Homo sapiens: one gene and its partners. The protein of the gene in region 5 purifies or fractionates together with the protein of the main gene of each other region. This does not show direct contact. Each region holds a gene or a part of one and is shown on either strand. Other genes may lie near its edges. The genes, in order: GFPT1, EIF2AK4, PTGES3L-AARSD1, NIBAN2, TARS1, PAPOLA and TARBP1.

Region 1 (3,500 bases), on a different chromosome or scaffold from region 5:
GAGTTACGCTAGCTTATTTGAATGACTTACAAAACATGTTTACACGTGTTAACTCATTTACTTTGGAATACAGCCTTTGAGGTTTACATGTGAGGAATCAGATACTTAAGAGTTTTTTTTTTTTTTTTTTTTTGAGATGGAGTCTCTGTCACCCACCCTGGAGTGCAGTGGCACAATCTTGGCTCACTGCAACCTCTGCCTCCTGGGTTCAGGCAATTTTCCTGCCTCAGCCTCCCAAGTAGCTGGGATTACAGGCACACTCCACCACGCCTGGCTAATTTTGTATTTTTGGTAGAGATGGGGTTTCATGTTGGCCAGGCTGGTGTCGAACTCCTGACCTGAAGTGATCCACCTGCCTCAACCCCCCAAAGTTCTGGGATTACAGGCATGAGCCACCCCGCCTGGCCCAGATACTTAGAGCTTTAAGAAGACCAAGGTCATAGATCTCATATTGGGCAGAACCAAGACCAGAACTGAGGTCTTGGTCTCCACATCCTGTCTTCTTTTAGTTAACATATGCTGTTCCTTTTTAATTTAATACTTCTAAAACATTTAAAAATGTATTTTAAAATATTTTTAAATATATATTTCAGCTGGTTGCAGTGGCACATGACTGTAGTCCCAGCTACTCTGGGGACTGAGGCAGGAGGATCACTTGAGTCCAGGAGTTTGAATACAGCCTGGGTAGCATAGTGAGACCCTGTCTCTAAAACAGTAAATAAAATAAATTAAAAAAAATTACACACACGCGATATATTTCAGGGGAAATCTAACATCTAGGTTTTATTTTAATATTATATAATTGAGTTTTCTTCAGATCAGTTGGCTTTATATATAAATTCCAAAAGATATTATTCCCTAAGCACAATGTGGTGGTAATGAACTTGAGCTTTGAAGTTAGGCAAACCTGCAGTCAAGTACTAAGCCTGGTATTTCTTAGTTGCATGAGTTTAAACAAATTACTGGATCCCATAACGCTTCTGTTTCCTCGACTATAAGTAATAACAATCAGATTTACTACACAGGAATTTAAAGAAGTCTGTCCGTGAGGCTTCATATGGATTATGCAGTGCAATTTTTGCACATTCGTAAGCTATAGCCCTGCCTTTGCCCACCAGTGATGTTGTGTATGTGTGTGATTTTCTTTCCTAGGGGCGGCCTGTGGTAATTTGTGATAAGGAGGATACTGAGACCATTAAGAACACAAAAAGAACGATCAAGGTGCCCCACTCAGTGGACTGCTTGCAGGGCATTCTCAGCGTGATCCCTTTACAGTTGCTGGCTTTCCACCTTGCTGTGCTGAGAGGCTATGATGTAAGTCATCTACCACTGCAGAAATCTTGGGATGGTTTTTTACCTGGATACATTCTGATTTTTTTCTCCTAAATTTTTAACAATAGTGTTTGAGAAATCTATCAAATATATATCTGTCACCTGTTATATTTTCATGGCCCAATTTGTAGGTTACATCACAACATCTTCTTACCCATAGAACTTGAAGGAACCTTGGGGTTCACCTCCAAGATTGTGACTCACCTTGGGTAGTCTCCACCTGTTTTCTTAATATAACCTCTATCTCTTAACAGGGCAGCTATTGGCATTTGGCAGGACAATTCTTTTTTGTTTGGAACTGTCCCACACATTGAAGACTTTGTAGCATTCCTGGTTTCTCAGCCATTGTGGCAACCAAAACATAGTGCTTTTGTTTTTAGTGTCCCCTATGAGGGCTACTACTTCTGTAGAGGACCACAGTAGCTCTTTCTGTGTGAACTGGCACCTTTAGAATGCTTTTTCCTAACCAATTTCAGTTTTTTTCAGGACACATTATGTGATTATATTTTCTAATCTAATTCTTTGTAGTCTGTAATAAAGATGGTTAATGAATGTATTGTTTTCTGTTTTTATAAACAAAAATAATTTGCTTATAGTAACCACCCCCTTCCCCAGTCTATATAATCTCTCAAATCTTGCTTTTTTTTTTTTTCTTTTTGCAGGTTGATTTCCCACGGAATCTTGCCAAATCTGTGACTGTAGAGTGAGGAATATCTATACAAAATGTACGAAACTGTATGATTAAGCAACACAAGACACCTTTTGTATTTAAAACCTTGATTTAAAATATCACCCCTTGAAGCCTTTTTTTAGTAAATCCTTATTTATATATCAGTTATAATTATTCCACTCAATATGTGATTTTTGTGAAGTTACCTCTTACATTTTCCCAGTAATTTGTGGAGGACTTTGAATAATGGAATCTATATTGGAATCTGTATCAGAAAGATTCTAGCTATTATTTTCTTTAAAGAATGCTGGGTGTTGCATTTCTGGACCCTCCACTTCAATCTGAGAAGACAATATGTTTCTAAAAATTGGTACTTGTTTCACCATACTTCATTCAGACCAGTGAAAGAGTAGTGCATTTAATTGGAGTATCTAAAGCCAGTGGCAGTGTATGCTCATACTTGGACAGTTAGGGAAGGGTTTGCCAAGTTTTAAGAGAAGATGTGATTTATTTTGAAATTTGTTTCTGTTTTGTTTTTAAATCAAACTGTAAAACTTAAAACTGAAAAATTTTATTGGTAGGATTTATATCTAAGTTTGGTTAGCCTTAGTTTCTCAGACTTGTTGTCTATTATCTGTAGGTGGAAGAAATTTAGGAAGCGAAATATTACAGTAGTGCATTGGTGGGTCTCAATCCTTAACATATTTGCACAATTTTATAGCACAAACTTTAAATTCAAGCTGCTTTGGACAACTGACAATATGATTTTAAATTTGAAGATGGGATGTGTACATGTTGGGTATCCTACTACTTTGTGTTTTCATCTCCTAAAAGTGGTTTTTATTTCCTTGTATCTGTAGTCTTTTATTTTTTAAATGACTGCTGAATGACATATTTTATCTTGTTCTTTAAAATCACAACACAGAGCTGCTATTAAATTAATATTGATATATTCAGTATTCTCTTCAACTTTGTCACGAGGAAGAATTTCCTGTAGTTAATTTTAACTTTCCTTCATTACATTGTTGCATAAAACTAGTCCCTTAGTGCCAGTTTGGAAGTTACTTGCAATTGTTTGGAAGATTTGCAGGTCGCTGACCTCATCATTTCACTCTAAGTATATGTGGTAGGCTAAGCTCAGAAAAAGGTATGTATGCTTTACACTGATAGGCACCAAATTTAGTATTGTATCCTAAGTATTTTTCCTCTTCTGTATTTTCTGTGCTCTACCCCTGAAATATATTTAGGAATAAAGAAGATATAAATAAAGTGATATTGGGGTATGTTCAGCTTGTAAGTGTCAGAAATGGAAGTTGACAATTTGGATTAAAATATTTAAAGTAGAATGTTATTATTTGATACCCCCAAAATTGTGAGTAATAATTTCTTAATGGAGCTTTTCTGGCCAGATCTTCAGGGCTATAGGAGAGTGTGTTTGTTTTTGGTGAAGTCCTTCTTTTTCAAAGGTTTTTACTTTTAAATTGTGAAGATAAGCTAT
Region 2 (3,500 bases), on a different chromosome or scaffold from region 5:
CATAAGGATGCCTCTATGTAGGATGGGAGGACTTGCCTTTGCAACGTTTTCTTGCTTTCTTATTATTTTACTGTGTTGTTAATTGTATTGTTCTGGTTTCAGTATACATCATCTTAGGTATATAACAAAATCAATGGGCAGTGATTGTGTTAATAGCAATTGCTGTTATTGACTAAGCTAAGCACCTTTCTCTGTGAGGCCTTGATACAAGTGCTTTACAGTCACCATTTGGGGTAGTGGAAATGGTATAAATGCCATTTTAAAGATAAGAAAATTGAGTCTCAAGGAAATTAAGTAATTTTCCCAAGTTCACACGGCTTTAGAAATCAAGGAATTAACCTTTGTGTTCAGGTCTGTTAATATTTTTGGTGTTTAATTTGTTTTTAGTGACTTTAAGTGTAAAAAAAAATCAGAGAGAAACTAAAATCATCTGAAACTTTACACTGACTTTAGAAAATAATTTTTAATCTTAAAATCAAGACACTTAGAAATTTAGATAGCAGATACATTGGAAAAGCAGGGAGGTAACTGTCAGTAAAATTAATTATTAAAATGGAGATTATGTTTTCCCCAGGGTCTCCCAGCAAGCTAAATATATCTAGAGTCGGGTGGGCTGTTTTCTGAATTTTGTGGCAGTCAAAGCTTTCTTCAGTTTAAGAATTTCAGGCATGTGGTTCTTGACTGTAGCTGTGGGACTCATTTAGAACTTCACGCTTTCCTTGGGAGGGGATGGGGTGCGGTGCAAATGCCTGTTTGTGCAAGGCTCCGAGCGGCTGACCTTCCCCTGGCTGTGCCGCAGGTGCAGAACAAGTTGGACGGCTGCTGCTACGCAGTGAAGCGCATCCCCATCAACCCGGCCAGCCGGCAGTTCCGCAGGATCAAGGGCGAAGTGACACTGCTGTCACGGCTGCACCATGAGAACATTGTGCGCTACTACAACGCCTGGATCGAGCGGCACGAGCGGCCGGCGGGACCGGGGACGCCGCCCCCGGACTCCGGGCCCCTGGCCAAGGATGACCGAGCTGCACGCGGGCAGCCGGCGAGCGACACAGACGGCCTGGACAGCGTAGAGGCCGCCGCGCCGCCACCCATCCTCAGCAGCTCGGTGGAGTGGAGCACTTCGGGCGAGCGCTCGGCCAGTGCCCGTTTCCCCGCCACCGGCCCGGGCTCCAGCGATGACGAGGACGACGACGAGGACGAGCACGGTGGCGTCTTCTCCCAGTCCTTCCTGTAAGCGCACGGCGCGGACCAGCTGCCTCTGATGCGCCCCCTAGTTTCCTTTCTTTATTTTTTTTTCCTTTTTCCTTTCATTTCCTTCCTTCCTTCTTTCCTTCTTTTCTTTCTTTCCTTTTTTGAGATAGGGTCTTGCTCTGTCACCCAGGCTGGAGGTCAGTGGCGCGTCCTTGGCTGCAACATCCGCCTCCCGGGCCAGCGAATGCCCCCCAACATTAATCCCCACCAAGTCCAAGCCAGGGAAAAGGGGATTCATTTAGAAATCCAGACGTGTTGACCATGTTTAAAAACAAAAACAAAAACAAAACAAAACCACCACTTTTAGAGAGTAACCAAATGCAATCTAAAGGAGCGGTCCCCAGCGTTTTTAGGCACCAGGGACTGGTTTCATAGAAGACAATTTTTCCACAGACGGGTGTTAGGGAAATAGTTTCGGGATGAAACTGTTCCACCTTACATCATCAGGCATTAGAGTCTCATAATGACTGCTGAAAAAGCGCACAACCTGGATCCCTCGTGTGCACAGTTCACAATAGTGTTTGCGCTCCTATGAGAATCTAATGCGGCTGCTGATCTGACAGGAGGTGGAGCTCAGGCCTTAATGCTTGCTCACCTCCGGCTGTGCGGCCCTAACAGGCAGTGGACCTGTACCTGTCCATGGCCTGGAGGTTTGGGACCCCTAATCTAAAGGATTTTTTTTCCCGCTATTTTCAAAAGATCTCCAAAATCCAAGCCATGGAAAAAGGAAAATTCAATACCTCATCTTATACATTGAATAGAATTTCTCATAGGACATTCCTTTGGATAAGGGCTTGCAACCCTGTGAAACATTTAAGAACTAATTTGGAGTCTTGATACAGTGCCAACTGCAGCCCCCAAAGGTACCAAACCAATAATTATGATCCTAAATTTTATGCTTCTCAGAATCCACCCTGGATGTTTACTTTCATGATTTTGTTTTATTTTATCCAAGTGGATACAGTTTATGATTACTCTTCACTATTAAATTTTTTGAGGAAACTTAATCTGGCTAATTTTTATTAAATCAAGGGTTCTGTGTTTTGCATAATAGCAAGTACAAATCAGCACAGTGTAGAGTATACATTGATGCCTGTGGGCTCATGGTGTGATGTCTGTAGCCTCTTGTGCTTTCTAGTATTTAAAAATGTCCATGTTTATAATGATAATAGGGATTTCTGTTCCTTTAGTATTTCTGTTTCCCTTTTTCAGGCCTGCTTCAGATTCTGAAAGTGATATTATCTTTGACAATGAAGATGAGAACAGTAAAAGTCAGAATCAGGTATATATATGAATAGAAATTATATCATTTTATTCGTGATATAATTGACGTCTGATGTCATAAACCTTAGGTAAAGTATTAAGGCTTTAATCTGATATTCAGATATAGAAACCATAAATTTTAAAAGATGATTATTCATTTAAAATATATTCTACCTGTGTTTATTTATAGACCTTCTTTATTTATCCACATAGTAAAACATACCTCCTTTTAGAAGAGAGGAGTCAGTTGAGACACTGCATTTTTGTATGTGATGAAAACAGTTTTCTAAGGGTTTGGGAAACTTTATATGGTTGGGGATAAGAATTGAATGCAAATTAATGAACTAGATTTGCATTTATGGAGTTACCTCATCATGGAGTTACCTTGGTCTGTCCCACGTCAATTAATCTTGATTCCTTATTTTCATAGACCATCCTCTAGAACAGTGTTTTCACACTGTGTATCGTGATCCTATAATGCAGGGGTGTCCAAGCTTTTGTCTTCCCTTGGCTACACTGGTAGAAGAATTGTCTTGGGCCACACATAAAATATACTAACACTAATGATAGCTGATAAGCTAAACAAACAAAAAAATCACAAAAAATCTCATAATTTTTTTTTGAGATTGTGCTGTTTTTTTAGTTGTGTTTTCAATGGAGAAATACATCATCTGTTGACAAAATAGCTTTTGAAAAATACGAGTACAGATACTATAAAACAAAGCAAACTTCAGTCGTGAGACACTACATACATCATGTGAAAGCAACAGTCTGATCTCCAGGTTGTGAAAACTATAATTAAAAAGTCACTACACAGAAAAGATCCAAGTTTCCAGGTTGGCAAAACTTCGGTGCAGTTACATGAAACGTTTAACAAACTGATTTGTTTTCCCCAATGTGTAAACAAAATGACAAGACTAAGTCTGTGCCTGGTAATTTCAATGTAACTCTGAAGCTACACAAAACACACAGACACCTTATACACT
Region 3 (4,040 bases), on a different chromosome or scaffold from region 5:
CTCATCAATTAATTTCTACAGTGGAAACTACTTCTGGGACTGGAATATAGAAAACAAGAATTGGCAGAGGCCGGGTGCAGTGGCTCACAGCTGTAATCCCAGCACTTTAGGAGGCCGATGCAGGTGGATCACCTGTGGTCAGGAGTTTGAGACCAGCCTGGCCAACATGTTGAAACACTGTCTCTACTAAAAATACAAAATTAGCTGGGTGTGGTGGCACATGCCTGTAATCACAGCTACTCGGGAGACTGAGGCAGGAGAATCGCTTGAATCTGGGAGGCGGAGGTGTAGTGAGCTGCGATCATGCCATTGCACTCCAGCCTGGGCAACAAGAGCGAAACTCCGAATCAAAAAAAAAAAAAAAAAAAAAAACAGAAAGAAAAAAGAAAAAGAAATGGCTGGGCACATTGGCTCACGCCTGTAATCCTAGCAGTTTGGGAGGCTGAGGCGGGTAGACCACCTGAGGTCAGGAATTCAAGACCAGCCTGACCAATATGGTGAAACCCCGTCTCTACTAAAAATACAAAAATTAGCCAGGCGTGGGGGCACAAGCCAGTAATCCCAGCTACTCAGGAGGCTGAGGAAGGAGAATCGCTTGAACCCGGGAAGTGGATGTTGCAGTGGGCCAAGATCGCGCCACTGCACTCCAGCCTGTGCTACGGGAGTGAGAATCCATCTCACACAAACACACACACAAAAAGAATCAAAGGTTTTGATTGTGAGTTGCAGTAAAGGGAAAGACCATGTTCATAGCAGTGCCAATATCTGAAGTGGAGTCTTACACATTTCATCACCTACAACGAAAGTAAGTTAACTGGGAGAGATTACCAAGAGAGTAAAAAGAGACTCAGGACAAATAGCTAATGTATGCAGGACTTAAAACCTGCATGACGGGTTGATAGATGCAGCAAACCACCATGGCACACGTATACCTATGTAACAAACCTGCATGTTCTGCACATGTATCCCAGAACTTTAAGTTAAAAAATAAGCCAGGCGCGGTGGCTCACGCCTGTAATCCCAGCACTTTGGGAGGCCGAGGCGGGCAGATCACCTGAAGTCGGGAGTTCGAGACCAGCCTGAGCAACAAGGAGAAACCCCATCTCTACTAAAAATACAAAATTAGCTGGGCGTGGTGGTGCATGCCTGTAATCCCAGCTACCCAGGAGGCTGAGGCAGGAGAATTGCTTGAACCCGGGAGGCGGAGGCCATGGTGAGCTGAGATCACGCCACTGCACTCCAGCCTGGGCAACAAGAGTGAAACTCCGTCTCAAAATAAATAAATAAATAAAAATAAAAAGAGAGACTAATACAGTTGGAAAAAAAAGATTAGGCAGGACTTGTTGAGTGATTGAATATTGGCTGGAAAGGAGGCAAGGACAATCCCAGCTGTAACCTGGGTACATGGAGAGAAGAAGCAGGCCACTTTCCACACACCCACCTTGATATCCTCCTTGGTAAGCCGCGGCCAGGCCACCTTTTCCTTCCATTTTCTCACAAAACAAGTAATAGAGCGGGAAGAGCGCTTATCCTGGGAGTCCTGCCAGATAGAGAGCCTCATTCTTAGGGTCTGGGGTTTAGAATTAATCTCCAGTTTCCCTGGGCAGCCCGGTTTCCATCCAAACCTTACTGTCCCATTTCACCCTTACCTTGGAGTTCACTTTGGCATAGAACTCAATCTCATTGTACAACTCCACTCCATCGGCATTCTTGCAGCTGAGGAGACAATGAAGCTGAGGAGATGCGGAATACTCCGTGTGGGGACATTAGGAAAGGGGTAGATTCCTGGGAAGCCAGGCCCTCGGACGGCAGGGCCACTACCTGAACACAATGCGGTGATCCTCAATAAGCACGTGGACATCGGTGCTGTCCTCAACACAAAACTCCATGAACACATACCTGGGCCTGTCGTACCACAAGGTCCGGGCGTGCTGCCTGAAGAGAAGTTGAGGTGTGGCTTCATAGGGGTGGGAGAGGGAAGACTGAGGTCATTTGGGAAGGGACTACCCAGGGACCTTTGATGCCACAGTTTTTTCAAAGTGGAGCTAAATGAGACAGAAGGGGTGAAAGGGAAGGGAATGACAGGAGTGGGTGGGTGTGGTGAATGTGAACCTGGGAAGAATAGAACGTGCAAGACTAGGAAACTAGGAGGTCAGGGAGAACATTCAGGTCACACCTTCCCTCACCCCACAGTTACAGAGACCAGGGGTCCGGGGCTCCCGTGGGGCCTCACAGAACCTGGAGCGCCCAGAAGACTTGGAGCAGGGAATCTCCAGGGAAAAGGGCCAGGGGGAGCACCGGAGCCGGAAACACTCACCGTGCCATTGCGGCTCCCGCTCCAGGGTGGCATTTAGAGTTCCAGGCAGGGGCCGCTATCTTTAGATCCTGGGGACGCCCCCAGCAGCTGCCTCTCCTTATATGGTCGGGAGAGCAGTTGAGAGGAAGAGAGAACATGACCTGGCAGCCAAGGGATCTGCACTCTGGAGATACTCTGGGACAGCTTCATCCTTGCAGCCCTTCACCGTGGGGTCTTCAGAAATGCATAGACTATGAAGAGACAACCCATCTGCTGGAACCAGGGCAAAGGCTGCCCTAGACGCTACACACAGGGAATGACTTTTCCCCGGTATCATTCACCTGTTTCTCCGACGCTTACTGCTCAGTGTCTGATTCACAATAGGCGCTCAATAAAACATTATTGTCCTGAATTAAATTCCCGGGGAAGGCGCGCCCTCGGGGACTTGGGTACTTCAGGCCCCGCCCACCACTCCCCTGGGGTTCCAGGCCACCGCGCCGTTGCCATGGCAGCAGGGGGGCGCGGCTGACGTGCGGTGGTGTTTCCGGGAAGATGGCGGCTGTCGAAGCGGCTGCAGAGCCGGTAACGGTGGTGGCGGCTGTTGGGCCAAAGGCGAAAGACGAAGAGGAGGAGGAAGAGGAGCCGCTGCCACCGTGCGAGGCGGTGCGCTGGGCCCCAGTGGGGGCGGTGGCGGAGGCCCGGCCTGGGGCAACCGCGTTTTTAGAAGAGGCGACGGCCGAGGAGCCTGGCGCGGCCCCGGGCTCCCCGCCGGATTCGCCGGGCCGGACGCTGCGGCGGCTGCGGGCAGAGCGGCGGCGGCTGGACTCGGCGCTGCTGGCGCTGTCCTCGCACTTCGCGCAGGTGCAGTTCCGCCTGCGCCAGGTGGTGCGCGGGGCGCCGGCGGAGCAGCAGCGCCTTCTGCGGGAGCTCGAAGACTTCGCCTTCCGCGGCTGCCCTCACGTCCTAGGTTACGAAGGGCCCGGCGACCCCGCCAGCGATGAGGGCGATGGGCTGCCAGGGGACCGGCCATGGTTGCGGGGCGAGGACCAGGTGAGTGGCTGGAGCCGGGCCGCGAGGAATATGGGAATAGTGGGGTCGTGTGGGTGGCGATCCAGACCCGGATGATGGTGCATGCGGGGAGAAGCCTCCCCGACTCGGTCGGTGAGTACGTGTGTCGGAGACCAGGGGACTGGAGTGCGGGGCCGGCTGAAGGGCAAGAGGACAGAGGCCTGGGAACCTGAGGGTGAGCGGTGTGCACGGAGGATGTGGAGAGATGTCGGTGCGTGATGACGTGAGTGGTAGAGGAGCGGTGAGCGAAGTGAGTCGTTGAGAGGGCAGCAGAGCAGCCAAGAGCAGTGCTGCGCCCACTCACCTTTCCCTCACGTATCTCAGTCTTGAACACTTTGGCTGCTAGAGGACCCCGACTCTGGGGATTGGGAAAATTGGCAAAGGAAAGGAAAGTGAGTTGGAATCCGTGGAAATTTAGGTTAACTCCCTGTCCCTGCTTTCCTGAAATCTAGGCAGTCTTTACACTTCTTTGGGTGGGAGTTTGGATTAACAGCAGGGTCTCTTAGTAACTGAAATAAACACAACTCTTGATTAGATAAATTTCCTAATGTTGGAATTTTTCCTTTTTAAGAGACGGGAGGGTCTTGGTATGTTGCCCAGGCTGGTCTCGAACTCCTGGTCTCAAGCCATCCTCCCGCCTCAGCCTCAGGACTACAGGCGTGTGCCACCGTGCAGG
Region 4 (3,500 bases), on a different chromosome or scaffold from region 5:
CCTCGGTCGTCCTCACTGCTACACTCCCGCCAGCACCATGACAGGTTACAGATGCCATGGCAACGTCAGGAAGTCTCCCTATATGCTCTATCTAAAAAGGGAGGCATGAATAATCCACCCCTTGTTTAGCATGTCATCAGAAATAACCATAAAAATGGGCAACCAGCAGCCCTCGTGCTCTGTCTACGCAGTAGCCATTCTTTTATTCCTTCGCTTTCTTAATAAACTTGCTTTAACTCTATGGACTCACCTTGAATTCTTTCTTGCCCAAGATCCAAGAACCCTCTCTCGGGGTCTGGATCGGGACCCCTTTCTGGTTACAGAATGAATAAGCCCTAGTATTTGATAGCGCAACAGGGTGACTATAATCAATAATAATTTAATTGTACACTTAAAAGTAACTAAAAGAGGCTGCACAGGTGCAGTGGCTCAGGCCTGTAATCCCAGCACTTTGGGAGGCCGAGGCAGGAAGATCACTTGACGTCAGGAGTTTGAGACCAGCCTGGCCAACATGGTGAAATCCCATTTCTACTAAAAATACAAAAATTAGCCGGGCGTGGTGGTATGTGCCTGTAATCCCAGCTACTTGGGAGGCTGAGACAGAAGAATCACTTGAGCCTGGGAGGCAGGGGTTGCGGTGAGCTGAGATGGCACCACTGCACTCCAGCCTGGGCAAGAAGAGTGAGACTCTGTGTCCAAAAAAAAAAAAAAAAACTAAAAGAATATACTTGGATTGTTTGTAACACAAAGGATAAATGCTTGAGGGGATAGATACCCCATTTCCCATGATGTGACTATTACACATTGCATGCCTGATCAAAACATCTCATGTACCCCATAAATATGCACACCTACTATGTACCCACAAAAATTAAAAATGAAAATGAAAATAAAATAAAATAAGAAAACTGCCAGCCCAGAGGTGTCAGCAGTGTTCTGCTTAGCTAGAAGTAGACAAAAACTCCTTTAGGATGGGTCTTGCTTCTTCGTTTGAACAAAAAGAACAACAGCAATGAAAAATACCTTAGTAGATTCAATGAGCCTCTTGGTTTTACAAAAACTGGGCTGATCCTCTCTGGAATAGTGTGGCTGGCTCTGCATAATTATGTAAAAGCCTTCTTCCTTTGGGTGGGGACCATCTCCAGAACATTCTGACCAAAGCATTTTCACTCAAGAATATTTAGATGTCCACCCCCATCCCAGCCCAGCTAACGTTCTTTGTTCCACACAAGAAATGTCAATGCTCAGTGTCCTATCCAGCTGTCAACCAATACTCAGGATCTGGCTAGTAAAGAATAACCTACAGGAGACCAGGCACGGCCACTCATGCCTGTAATCCCAGTGCTTTGGGAGGCTGAGGCAGGAGGATTGTCTGAGGCCAGGAGTTCGAGACCAGCCTGGGCAACACAGTAAGACCCCCTTCTCTCTCTCTCTTTCAAAAATTTTTAAAAGAGATAGAGTTTTGCCCAGCCAAGACCCCTTTCTCTACAAACAATTTAAAAATTAGCCAGGCGTGGTGGCCTGCACCTGTAGTCCCAGTTACGCAGGAGGCTGAGGTGGGAGGACTACTTGAGCTCAGGAGGTCACGCAGTGAACCATGATTGTACCACTGCTCTCTACCTGGAAGACAGAGCGAGACTCTGTCTCTTAAAAAACAGGCCGGGCGGCCAGGCGCGGTGGCTCACGCCTATAATCCCAGCATTTTGGGATGCCGAGGTGGGCGGATCATGAGGTCAGGAGATCGAGACCATCCTGGCTAACACGGTGAAACCTTGTCTGTACTAAAAAATACAAAAAATTAGGTAGGCATGGTGGCGGGCGCCTGTAGTCCCAGCTACTCAGGAGGCTGAGGCAGGAGAATGGTGTGAACCCGGGAGGTGGAGCTTGCAGTGAGCCGAGATCACGCCACTGCACTCCAGCCTGGGCGACAGAGCGAGACTCCGTCTCAAAAAAAAAAAAAAAAAAACAAACAAAAAAAACAGGCCAGGCACAGTGGCTCACACCTGTAATCCCAGCACTTTGGGAGGCCGAGGCAGGTGGATCACTTGAGGTTAAGAATTCAAGACCAGCCTGGCCAACATGGCAAAACCCTGTCTCTACTAAAAATACAAAAATTAGCTGGGCATGGTAGCAGGTGCCTGTAATCCCAGCTACTTGAGGGGCTGAGGCAGGAGAATTGCTTGAACCCGAGAGGCAAGGTTGCAGTGAGCCCAGATTGTGCCACTGCACTCCAGCCTGGGCAACAGATCAAGACTCCATCTCAAAATAATAATAATAATAATGGCTGGGCACAGTCGCTCACATCTGTAATCCTAGCACTTTGGGAAGCCAAGGTGGGTGGATTGCTTGAGCTCAGGCATTTGAGACCAGCCTGGGCAACATGGCAAAACCCTGTCTCTACAAAAAATACAAAAATGTGCTGGGCGTGGTGGCACATGCCTGTAGTCCCAGCTACTTGGGGGGTTGAAGTGGGAGGATGGTAGAGACTGCAGTGAGCCAAGGTCGTGCCATTGCACTGCAGCCTGGGCGACAGAGTGAAACCCTGTCTCAAATAAAATAAAATGAAATAAAATAAAATAAAAAGAACGTCCCATGGGCAACTGACAATTGCTAAAACTGAGCTCTGCAGATGTGTTATGGGGACCAAGCTGGTGAAAGGATCCCATCTGGCTGGGAAGAGAAAGGCGTACAGTCTGGGCACAGTGGCTCATGCCTGTAATCCCAGGACTTTGGGAGGCCAAGGTGAGCGGATCACGAGGTCAGGAGTTCAAGATCAGCCTGGCCAACATGGTGAAACCCCATCACTACTAAATACACAAAAGTTAGCCGGGCATGGTGGCGCGCGTGTGCCTGTAGTCCCAGCTACTCAGGAGGCTGAGGCAGGAGAATTGTTTGAATCCGGGAGGCGGAGGTTGTGGTGAGCTGAGATCGCACCACTACATTCCAGCCTGGGTGACAGAATAAACTGACCTGGGAAAGCTATACTTGCTGAACGTAAATGTACTTTAAAATGACACATGGTAAAAATCTGTGACGAGTCAGAGATGAAAAGAAGGCTTGAACCTCCAGAACAAAAATTTTTCTCTTCAAGTTCTGGGCTTATAGAAATAATAGCCACAAAACAACTCACAGGGGTTGGAGTACCACAGTGCAGATTTGGCTCTAATTCTTACAAATGATCAATGAGCAAGTCATTGCTGTGAAATTTACATGAATCATGAAATAAAAAGAAAGTCCACCTTGGCCCCTGGAGGGCCCGTCGAGCACGGGGGTGGCTGCCTACCTCGGATCTTGCTGGCAAGGTGCTCCTTGGAGGTGATAATTTGGTCCATGTCAGTTCGGATGACGGCCTGCATGGCCGGCTGCACCTGCTGCACCTTGGACAGCACCTCCTCGAAGCGCGCCTTGGCCTGCTCGTACACCATGTGGTACACGGCGTCCGAGATCTGTGGGCAGAGCAGCTGAATTGGCACCAGGGCTGAGGGCACCGCACCAGCTGC
Region 5 (3,500 bases):
CCATTTCAAAAATACACAATCATAAAGAAAAAAACTAGCTTACACAAACCTAGGAACCATTTCCAATTTCATTTTGCTTTTATCCATTTAAAGAGGCTTGGCTTTCTTACATCTCAGAACAAGCCAATTTCAAACAGTATTCAAAAGCACGCTGAAAAACACCACTTACTTTCTCAGCTTGATCCCATACTTCGATATCTCCAAGGAATTTTTCCGGGCGAGTAGAAAGGTTTAGTTTAAAAGAAAATCCAAATACGCTATATACCGTACGTAGAAAATCCAAACAACCTTTTATTTCATCTTCAATCTTCAAATTAAAAAACAAAAAAAGAAACAGTAGTTATTTTCCTTGACTTTCTTGACTCTTCTTTCTAAGTATTTTATTCCCAGGGTCTCATACCTGCTCCATGGCACAGAATATGTGAGCATCATCCTGTTGGAATCTTCGTACCCGGGTGAGTCCTGTGAGTGCTCCAGACAGCTCGTTCCTATGAAGTACCCCAAAATCAGCTAGCCGCAGAGGCAGTTCTCGCCAGGACCTTGGCCGATGATCAAACATAAGGCTGAAGAGAAAAAGAAAAGTCCACGGACACTTAAGAATAAAACTGCTTCTGTAATGCTATATTTAATTACACGAAAGGTTGTCAAAAAGCCACTGATTCTAGCTGTCCATCCAAGCAACATTTCTCAAATTCTGGGCTACATACAGCAGTAAAAGCACTTGCATGAATAAAACAGCAAATAAGTTATAACTCAATGAACCACAGTGAAGAATTAAAAAACGTATTCCAACAACTGAAGAATCTGGGAAAATTAAGAATGAACTTGGTTGGTCCCCTAGCCTATAATACAGCTTCTTCACAAAGATTCTTCTCTCACCTCCTCTGCCCTCCAGGCCTGGCTAGTAGGAGCTGCAGACACTAAGCTACCTGTATCCACAGCTCTCCTGTGTCTTCCCTTAAGCTGTTCTTCACCCAACTTTCAAAGATAGAAAGCAGAGCGGCCTCATGACAAGGAACATTTTCCAAGAATGCTGAGTCATTAGCAGGTTTTGACAGAACAGGTTTCTTTAAAACAACAACACACTAGGTAATTTGTTACACCCCCATATTTCATCTTCCTGTTTTATAGTCTGCCTTGGTCATTGCTATGATCCCAGTACCATTACTGAATGCCCACAGATCTGGAGATCTGGCTGGGCACAGTGGCTCATGCCTGTAATCCCAGCGCTTTGGGAAGCCAAGGTTGAAGGACCGCTTGAGGCCAGGAGTTTGAGACCAGGCTGAGCAACGTGGCAAGACCTCATCTCTACAGAAATAAAATTTTAAAAATTAGCTGGGCATGGTGGCATATACCTGCAGTCCCAGCTGCAGTGAGCTATAATCGCATACCTGCACTCCAGTTGGAAGACCTCTTTAAAAAAAAAAAAAAAAAAAGTGGGGATCTAATCAGGTGCAGAAGATATAATACAAAGATGTTGCGTTTAAATGCTCTTCTGATCACATAATTTGTTTTTAATGAAAATGTTGTTAAAGGAGGGAAGAACCCAGGATGAATTGTAGCATGTGAAAATCTTCAGTAGAAATTCAAAGCTGCCGAATACCAGTGTCCTGGGCAGTTCATGGGTTTCAGGGCAAACAGCTCCTTCTCCACCTCAAAGGAGAACATGTTCTCGCTGTAGTGCTGCCAGTGGCCCGAGGTCATCCAGAGTCGGCTGTTGAAGATGTTTGGGGTGACTACCTCCTGGAATCCTCTTTTCCTATATTCGCTCTGATAGAAAATAAACAGAAACATGTGTAGGCAAATAAATGCTCATACTTCAAGTGGGAGTAAAAACTTAAAGAGTGATTTTATACTCTCTCATGAAAAAGATGGACACATGCCATGATTCAGAAATCCCACTTCTAAGTATATACCAGAGAGAAAACTCTTGGCACATGTACCTAAGGAGGCTTATAAAAGTGATGCTACTGCAGCATGGCTGATAATAAGGGACAATTATACATCAGTGTCCATCAATACAGGGATGAGTGCATTGTGGTAGTTATATAACAAAATAATATGTAGCAAGTGAAAATAAACTTGATTTGCATGTCTCTAAAAATAAATCACAAGGCAGTCTGATACACAATGAGGCTTCCTATATGTAACACACAAATACATAAATAATTTAAGGGTACAAATACATGGGCTAGATATAAGTAACATGGACAAAAAGAATCCATGCCAACTTCAAAACAGTAGTTTCTTCTAGAAAACTGGTATATGATATACCAGTATATGGATATATATACCAGTATATGGAGGTATATGGATCAAAACTGGGTCCTAAAGAGAGGCTTTTTAAACAACTAATTTTTTTTTTAATATCATGAATGAAAAAATCTCAAGCAAATATAGCCCAATGTGAATATTTGTTAAATGTGGGTAGTTAAGTACAAGATATTGGATATACTATTCTCTATAAACTTATACTTGAAACATTTCATAATTTACAAAGGAAAAAAGCAATGTAAAAACCGTTTTTTCAAAGAAAATACAAATAAATGATCAAAGTCAAAGAGGGCACAGAGCTCCTATGTCAAGGACCACAGGTCCCCCTTCAAGCTCACCAGTTTCTATGTGTATATGGGCAAAATCAACTATTAGGGATGATTTATGAGGCCACAGACTTCTACTTTTACTTATCGTCTTATATATTTCTTCTCAAATACAGATTATCTTTCCTTTTAGTAGACCTTATTTAATAAAATGATCACATATCCTAAATCTAAAGAAGAAAGCAATAAATATGACTTACCCTAATGAATTCAATAAGTGCATTATAAATGTAGGCTCCTTTTGGCAGAAAAAAGCAACTTCCAGGGCTGAGTTCATGAAAGAAATATAGTTCTTGGTCCTGGGTAAAAGAAAAGCAAAAGAATGTTTATGTACGTCACGTATACGTGTGTGTATATATACATAAATTTCAGTGTTCTTGAGCTCAGAATATGGTCATGATGTCCCATATTTCAATCAGTGCCACTCCTGAATCAAAGAAACCATGTCAGTGTTTCTGATGTTATAGAATTGCAGCTGATTTACAATTTGGCAGACGTGTAACACATGCCCTGCCTGTTATATTCCTCAATCCAGTCAAGTTTCCCCAACAGTGGCAGGGAATAAGGGTCCCTTCAGTTCTTTAACTATCCACTGCAGTACCTCTCATGGTTCTTAAATTCCTTAAAGCTCCAAGATCTGGATCTTTTTTCATTTTATTTATGTATGTATTTATTTTCTTAGTAAGAGTATCAGGAAGGAGACTGGGAAAAAGACACTGATAATGAAATAGATGATGGTAAAGTTGGCTGACTTTGGGTCATGGTGAAAGAAACACACCCTCCTACCTCCTTGCCAACATCCGCCTCCCCAAGTGCCCAAAAGCCCTCAGGGAAGGGCCCATCAATCATTGCTGGCTGCCTCATAGCTGGAATGTCAGGTAGTCAGGGGTGCAAGGCAGT
Region 6 (3,500 bases), on a different chromosome or scaffold from region 5:
ATATCCATCATAGAAATCTGGATAATTTGGGAGAAGGGGGAGAATTTCCAATTTTTCCACAAGGAAAGAAAGTTAAAAGCCTTCAATAGATTTCAATTTCTAGGGAAAAAAAATGAGTCTTTTACATTTTGGGGAAAAAAAAATTTCTTCCACCCCATCTACACCTCATTCAAGCCCCATGTACCCCAGGTTCTAGCCAAAACCTTACGCCAAAAACTGCTTCTATAATCATAACAAATTCTCAACCCAAAGAGACAGATCATGATCTCAGCCCGGACTATCAAAAATCCTATGTATCCTTTGAGGACCACTTCAAATGCTACTTCTTTCTTCAATGAAGACATGTACTGCTATTTCTGCAGTCAGAAATAACATCTTACTTTTCTTGCCCCGTGGCCCCCAGCCCTCAATTACTTTTTCTTTGATAATGTAATTAATTACATTCATGACTTATCTTGTCTACTTAATTATAAGCTCCTTTAAAGGCACAGAATGTGTTTCACTCATCACAATATTCCCTTCAGTGTTCAGCATTACATAATTAACAGTAATAAACAATACTAAAAAAATCTAAAACCTATAGCACAAAAATACAATATTTTAGAGACATTTCTATTACATCTTCTGTACTCTTAATTGTGTATGTATTCTAAAGGCTAAATTAGTATACCTTTGCTTCTGTTTTATCATGTCCACTCAAAGCAAGACAGTTAGCATCTTCACTTGTTTCATCCTGTTTTTAAAAAAAAAAGCTTTATTCTCTAAAATGAAAAATTTAGATTATTTGCCAATCAATGCTTTACTTTATAAACTTTAAAACTATAAAATAATTAAACCTGTAAGATCAACTACAGCCTTAAAATAGATAACTGGTCCCTCTTTTAAAATGTTTTTATCAGATTAAATTTGGCTTCAGTAGCTAATAAAATTAAAAAGAGCATTAGGAAAACTGTTACTGCAGATCACCACCTAAAGTACATTTCCAAAACCACTAAGAGTTCATAGAAATATATTTTGTAAGGAAAAGAAAAAAAAAAAAGAGTTCCTGATCATACAACTTTAGGAACTTGGCATAGTATCACCCCCATTCTGGGAGATTCACACAGAGTGGCACATAAAAGGTTCTAATAAATTCTATCAAGAAAGAACTCCACTTTAATTTTCCCAAGCTTAACCAGAGAATCCTTGCTCTTGGTACGACCTACTAACATCCTACAGAATACAAGACTTGAGAAATGCCTTGCTTGGGTCTTAATAACTATTTTGACACTATTTTCTCAGCAGAATTAAAATTTAATTTTAAATGTGACTTTTAAAACAGGCATAGAAAAACCACAGGCTTATAGCTTAGAAGAGATTTAATACAGTATCGATCAATTCCAATAAGGACTTTATTTGTACCCTGCAAATATGCAAACTTTAAAAATAGTAATGTGTCACAATTGGCCAAATCTGAATACTGACTGATATGTAAAACTATGGATTATTAATATTTGTGTGACAAATATACGGTACTTATATTTTATAGAAGTCCTTATTTTTAGATATACAAAGAAATGTTTTTGGTTGTTATGCCTGGGGTTTGCTTCAAAACAATGGGGAAGGAAGTGATGTGGGTATGTAGATAAAACAAGGCTGGCTGTGAGTTGTTAACTGTTGAAGCTAGGTGATGCAAACATGACAGTTCATTATACTTATGACATGTTTGAAATTTTCCATACAGAAAGTTTTAAATATATACATATATACACATATATATATATACATATATATATGTGTGTGTGTATATATATATATATAGAGAGAGAGAGAGAGAGAGAGAGAGAGAGAGGTTAATTTAGCTATAATCCAGGAAATAGAGCAAACATTTTCGATTTTTATTTTACATTACCATTTATATTTATTTGAAAAACCTTAGGATATGATGACCATTAAGCAGAACTAAACTACCTCAGAGTATCTAAAACTTTCCTATCTATATACACGTTAGTGCATTACTGAGTGAGGCCAGTATTTCTTTCTGCTTTGCTAAAATTTCTAATACCAAGTACTCATTAGCAGAGAATAAAAGACCCAATTAAGAAGGGCTTCAAAATCAGGATTACTTCTACCACAGCAAATTTCTTTTGACTAAAGCACCATGAGATTTAGGCCTGGGTTCTAATCCTGCCTCTAACTGTAACTAGATCCGTAACTGGAAAAGCCACTAAACAGCAAGTTCTTCTGGTAGGAAATGAGATTAGCCCATGGAATAACCTAATACCCCTTATCTTCTTAAAATGCTATAGTTCTATTAATCAACTCCGTAGAAATACTGTAAGCAAAATCCAGACTGAGAAAACATACACCAAAAAAAAAAAAAAAATTACAGGGAAAAGTGGGGGAGGGATGGAGGAGGGAATCTATATTTTAAAGGACACTTAGAGATATCAAACAATTGCAACACAGGGATCTTTTTCTGCTTCCAGATTTAAACAAACAGCCTATTTTTTAAAAAATCAATGAAACAATCAGGGGCCATTTGAGCACTGACTAGATGTTTGATGATATTAATAAATTGTTAATTTTTGTGAGTAGGCTAATTTTACTGTTAATGCTTTCATTCTTAGATATGATTTTTAAGATTCTAATGAAACATGTTTGGATTTTGCTTTTAAGTAATTCAATGGCAAGAGAAAATGAAAAAGGCTGAAAGAATTAAGATTACAAAGATTGGCTGAGAGTTAATTATAACAGAAGCTGTGTGATGGGTACACAGGTACATAAAATGACTCTTTTATATGTATTTTTAATTTTCCATACTTAAGTTTAAAAATTCTATATTCTTATTGCTTTTCTAAACCAGACAAGAAACACAAGTGTTATTCTACCAAGGTAAGTGCAAACAAAATTGCAAAATACTGCACTAGTACAAACTTATTTAGAGCTCTTAGGGTGCCATTTTTAACATAAAGAAAACCAAATGTTAAATGCATAGAATTATGCTTAAATACACTTTACTAATGTCAAAAGAAATTTGAGTTCTGAAATGCCGTGACAACTTCAAACCAGTATCAGTAGTCTGAATGTGTAATTGACACAAAAATTGAGTATATTCTTTAGCTGCTGCACAACCCAATCATGTGGCAGCAGGGCTCTTAATAGGATCTCCAGGCCTAACTTCTAGAAGATCTCTGATTCAGTTTGGAGAAAGCCCTAAAATCTTTATTGAAAAACAACAACAACAAAAAAAACCCCAAAAACTAATTCTGTTGTACAACCAATGATGAAAATCACTGCCCTAAGAGATAATTACACAGACACAGATGAGTTTTCAGAACACATCTTCTAAGTTATGATTATTTACAGTGGGCCCTCCATATCTGTGGAATCCATATCTGCGAATTCAACCAACCATGGATCAAAAATACTTAGAAAAATAAAAAATAATACAACAATAAAAATGACACAAATTAAAAAATACATCATAACAACAATTTAAACAGCATTTACATTGTATT
Region 7 (3,500 bases), on a different chromosome or scaffold from region 5:
ACACACCATATATATTCCTTGAATGTCGATACAGGGGAAGATGAGGGGAAATGTAGAGAGGGAACAAGGCATACGCTCCAAGAGTCCTCTCCCAGTGGGCCACCCAGGACACACTTAGCTCCCCCAGCAACAAGCTGTGACAACACAGTGAAAGTCTGTCTACCAGGGAAGCTCAATGGAGACTCAGTGCCTCGGGCTTTTCCTGGGACGTGGTCATGCAGGCACCTTTTGCCTCATACATACTGAAATTCCAGACTCTCAGAAAGAAAGCAGGTTTTCAGCATAAACCACATTGAACAAACACTTTAGATACAATAAGCCACTCTTAGCAGTTAGGATAGTGTAAATCCTCCCAAAATCCAAGGTCCCAGTGCCAGCCAAGGACTATTTAGAGAGATCATATGTATTATTTTATTACAAGCACATTTATTATTTTATTACAAGCAGGCCTTTCTAATGGCAGTATCACAGGTCTGCTATGTTAACTCATTTCTGTACACCCACTCACTAAGAAAGACTTGTAAATGGAAGTAACAAAAGAAAAACTTACCACATCTAGCAAATTCATAGCTGTTTGAAGAAGGTAGCATTGGGCTGCCCCTCTCAGGAGAATCTGATGTGTGATCATAGTGCAATGAATAACATCCCTGACATCGAAACACAAAAAATGCAGTTCCGTATTCCCAAAGACAATTCTGATAATTTGTGATTATCAACAAGTTGATTTATAACAACTACACTTCCTAATGCAGAAAGTCTGCAGAATTTCAAAGCTGTTATTTCCCATTATGGCCTCTATTAAGAGCTCAATTTTACTATGAAACAAGTCTCTTTTAAAAATAAGACTATAGGCCGGGCGCAGTGGCTCACACCTCTAATCCCACAACTTTGAGAGATTGAGGCGGGTAGGTCACCTGAGGTCAGGAGTTTGAGACCAGCCTGGCCAACATGGTGCAATCCCGTCTCTACTAAAAATACAAAAATCAGTCGAGAGTAATGGCGCACACCTTTAATCCCAGCTACTTAGGAGGCTAAGACACGAGAATCGCTTGAATCCAGAAGGCAGAGGTTGCAGTGAGCCGAGATCGCACCACTGCACTCCAGCCTGGGTGACAGAGCGAGACTCCAGCTCAAAAAAAAAAAACTATAAATGAAGATGCTTTTAAAGAAGTTTATATTTACTGAAATACTTTTTCTTTTTTTCATCTCCTCAAAATTCCTTTTTACCAAATATTTTTTAAATACTTTCTGTTAAATATTATTGTTTGATATTTTATCTTTAGCTTTCTACTTACGAATGTAATTTTAAAAAAAACTTACTGGCCTTATTTAAAGAGGTCAAAATTCAACAGCACATACTTCAGTACACATTTAAACTAGTAATTTGTAAAACAAAATAAGTTCAACTATACGAATAATACATTTTTTAATTTTTTTCTTATGTAAAATTAAGAGCCCAAACATCCCAATCCCAATATTAACTATATCCATTTACTGTAGATTAAAGCAGAGGAGAAAATATATATATTGATGGAAAGTCATGGCAAATAACCATACAAGTACATATACAGAGTAAATTACCTGAGAGCAAGAAGCCCATCTATACCCAGGGCCTTATGTCTTGGGACATTTGCCAAAGCCTTAGATAGAAACAAAATGGGAACAGCACACCAATGCCTACTTGTCATCTTCCGAATAAACTTCAATAGGAAGCTACCTGAAAGAAAAAGTTTTAAATTATCATTGTTGCCAATTAGCACATGAAAAGAAGCTCAATACCATTAGGTATTAGGGAAATACAAGTCAAAACCATAGTAAGGCTCCACTTCCCACACACTATGATGGCTATAATCTAAAGGACAGACAATACTCAGAGTTGGGGAGGATGTGGAGAACCCAGAACCCTCACACAATGCTGGTGGGAATGTAAAACGGTGCAGCCGCTGTGGAAAAAAATATGGCAGTTCCTCCAAAACTTAGACGGACCACATGATCCGGTAATTCTACTTCCAGGTATATATCCAAGAGAATCAAAGATGTGTTCATACAGAAACTTGTACATGAACATTCATAACAGCATTACTCAAATAGTCAAAAGTGAAAACAATCCAAATGCCTACCAATGAATGAATGAACAAAATGTGAAATATCTATACAGTGAAATACTATTCAGCCACAAAAAGGAATGAAATGCTGATACGTGCCATAACAAGGATAAACCTTGAAAATACTATGCTAGTGAAAGAAGCCAGACACAAAAAGCCACGTATTGTATGATTCCACTGACATGAAATGTTGAGAATATGCAAATCTATAGAGACAAAGAGGATCAGTGGCTGCCAGGAGCTATGGGTAGAAGAGAATGAGAAGCGACTATTAACACACCTGAGGTTTCTTTTTGAGGGTGATCAAAATATTCAGGAATTAGACAGTGGTAACAGCTGTACAACTTTGTGAATACACTAAACACCACTAAACCAAATGGTTTAAAAGGGTGAATTCTATCTCAATAAAGCTGTTGTAAAAAAAAGTTAATTTAATTCCTAGTTTAGTAAGATAAGTATTCTACTGTACTATAGGGATTCTGATACCCATGAAGCTGTATTTTTTTAAAAGGTAATTTTTTGTTTGTTTGTTTGTTTTGAGACAGAGTCTCACTCTGTTGCCCAGGCTGAAGTGCAGTGGCTTGATCTTGGCTTACTACTACAACCTCCACCTCCTGGGTTCAAGTGATTCTCCTGCCTCAGCCTCCTGAGTAGCTGGGATTACAGGCATGTGCCACCACACCCGGCTAATTTTTGTATTTTTAGTAGAGACGGGGTTTGGCCATGTTGGCTGGCTGGTCTCAAACTCCCAACCTCAGGTGATCTGCCCACCTCAGCCTCCCAAAGTGCTGAGACTACAGGCGTCAGCCACCACACCCGGCCAGTAAAAGATAAAATTGTTTATGATTAGAAGCCATTCTTCTATTTGAGATGTGAAGGAAAAACAGGATAGGAAGTATTGATGGTTAGTGGCCTCTAGTATATGCAAACAGTAACATCTTTCTCATAGGCTGTTTCTTGACTACCTTGGATTTAATTACGATTATTTATATTTCTATTTTGAGATACAAAGGGATAGTGCTTCATTCTGTCCTCTCTGCTAATCTGTGATTTCTTAAGGACCCTCATCTCATGTAGTTAGTGAAAATGTCTGTTTTCTCACATAGTTGTAGAATGACTTTCAAGAAATCCTCAGAAGCTACTAAAAGGATATTACGCGGACTTTGTGTCTTTTGAAATACCTAGCACAAAAGACATTCAGAACACCCAGAAGATATTCACTGGAAACTGGTGACTGAAAAATGACTAAATAACTGTGAATGAATGTTTTAATTGCTCTTTTTGAACTCCTGGCCTCAATTTTTCTTTCTTCCATTTGCACTAACTAAATTCAGTAAATCCCATCTTTTGCCTAACGCTTCACTCATGACACTAGGAAGATGGCAATGGCCAAGT

The links.
Region 1: the proteins of TARS1 (region 5) and GFPT1 fractionate together in Homo sapiens (co-fractionation; one large-scale study listed by BioGRID). This does not show direct contact.
Region 2: the proteins of TARS1 (region 5) and EIF2AK4 fractionate together in Homo sapiens (co-fractionation; one large-scale study listed by BioGRID). This does not show direct contact.
Region 3: the proteins of TARS1 (region 5) and PTGES3L-AARSD1 fractionate together in Homo sapiens (co-fractionation; one large-scale study listed by BioGRID). This does not show direct contact.
Region 4: the proteins of TARS1 (region 5) and NIBAN2 fractionate together in Homo sapiens (co-fractionation; one large-scale study listed by BioGRID). This does not show direct contact.
Region 6: the proteins of TARS1 (region 5) and PAPOLA fractionate together in Homo sapiens (co-fractionation; one large-scale study listed by BioGRID). This does not show direct contact.
Region 7: the proteins of TARS1 (region 5) and TARBP1 fractionate together in Homo sapiens (co-fractionation; one large-scale study listed by BioGRID). This does not show direct contact.

Annotation. Positions count from the first base shown.
Region 1 is NC_000002.12:69,324,728-69,328,227, reverse strand, and holds part of GFPT1 (glutamine--fructose-6-phosphate aminotransferase [isomerizing] 1), read left to right. Parts: intron 1-1,152; coding exon 1,153-1,314; intron 1,315-1,994; coding exon 1,995-2,039; 3' UTR 2,040-3,500.
Region 2 is NC_000015.10:39,975,615-39,979,114, forward strand, and holds part of EIF2AK4 (eIF-2-alpha kinase GCN2), read left to right. Parts: intron 1-799; coding exon 800-1,230; intron 1,231-2,463; coding exon 2,464-2,533; intron 2,534-3,500. UniProt on the Homo sapiens protein: Metabolic-stress sensing protein kinase that phosphorylates the alpha subunit of eukaryotic translation initiation factor 2 (EIF2S1/eIF-2-alpha) in response to low amino acid availability.
Region 3 is NC_000017.11:42,977,729-42,981,768, forward strand, and holds the start of PTGES3L-AARSD1 (PTGES3L-AARSD1 protein), read right to left. Parts: upstream 2,801-4,040; 5' UTR 2,455-2,800; coding exon 2,318-2,454; intron 2,285-2,317; exon of another isoform or gene 2,177-2,284; intron 1,936-2,176; coding exon 1,822-1,935; intron 1,717-1,821; coding exon 1,650-1,716; intron 1,541-1,649; coding exon 1,442-1,540; intron 1-1,441. Other genes in the region: putative protein PTGES3L, read right to left, coding at 1,442-1,540, 1,650-1,716, 1,822-1,935, 2,318-2,325; RUNDC1 (RUN domain-containing protein 1), read left to right, coding at 2,849-3,346. UniProt on the Homo sapiens protein: Functions in trans to edit the amino acid moiety from incorrectly charged tRNA(Ala).
Region 4 is NC_000009.12:127,513,574-127,517,073, forward strand, and holds part of NIBAN2 (protein Niban 2), read right to left. Parts: intron 3,447-3,500; coding exon 3,284-3,446; intron 1-3,283. UniProt on the Homo sapiens protein: May play a role in apoptosis suppression. May promote melanoma cell invasion in vitro.
Region 5 is NC_000005.10:33,457,965-33,461,464, reverse strand, and holds part of TARS1 (threonine--tRNA ligase 1, cytoplasmic), read right to left. Parts: intron 2,900-3,500; coding exon 2,801-2,899; intron 1,771-2,800; coding exon 1,604-1,770; intron 564-1,603; coding exon 401-563; intron 308-400; coding exon 170-307; intron 1-169. UniProt on the Homo sapiens protein: Catalyzes the attachment of threonine to tRNA(Thr) in a two-step reaction: threonine is first activated by ATP to form Thr-AMP and then transferred to the acceptor end of tRNA(Thr).
Region 6 is NC_000014.9:96,557,882-96,561,381, reverse strand, and holds part of PAPOLA (poly(A) polymerase alpha), read right to left. Parts: intron 734-3,500; coding exon 671-733; intron 1-670. UniProt on the Homo sapiens protein: Polymerase that creates the 3'-poly(A) tail of mRNA's. Also required for the endoribonucleolytic cleavage reaction at some polyadenylation sites.
Region 7 is NC_000001.11:234,458,680-234,462,179, forward strand, and holds part of TARBP1 (tRNA (guanosine(18)-2'-O)-methyltransferase TARBP1), read right to left. Parts: intron 1,718-3,500; coding exon 1,582-1,717; intron 648-1,581; coding exon 551-647; intron 1-550.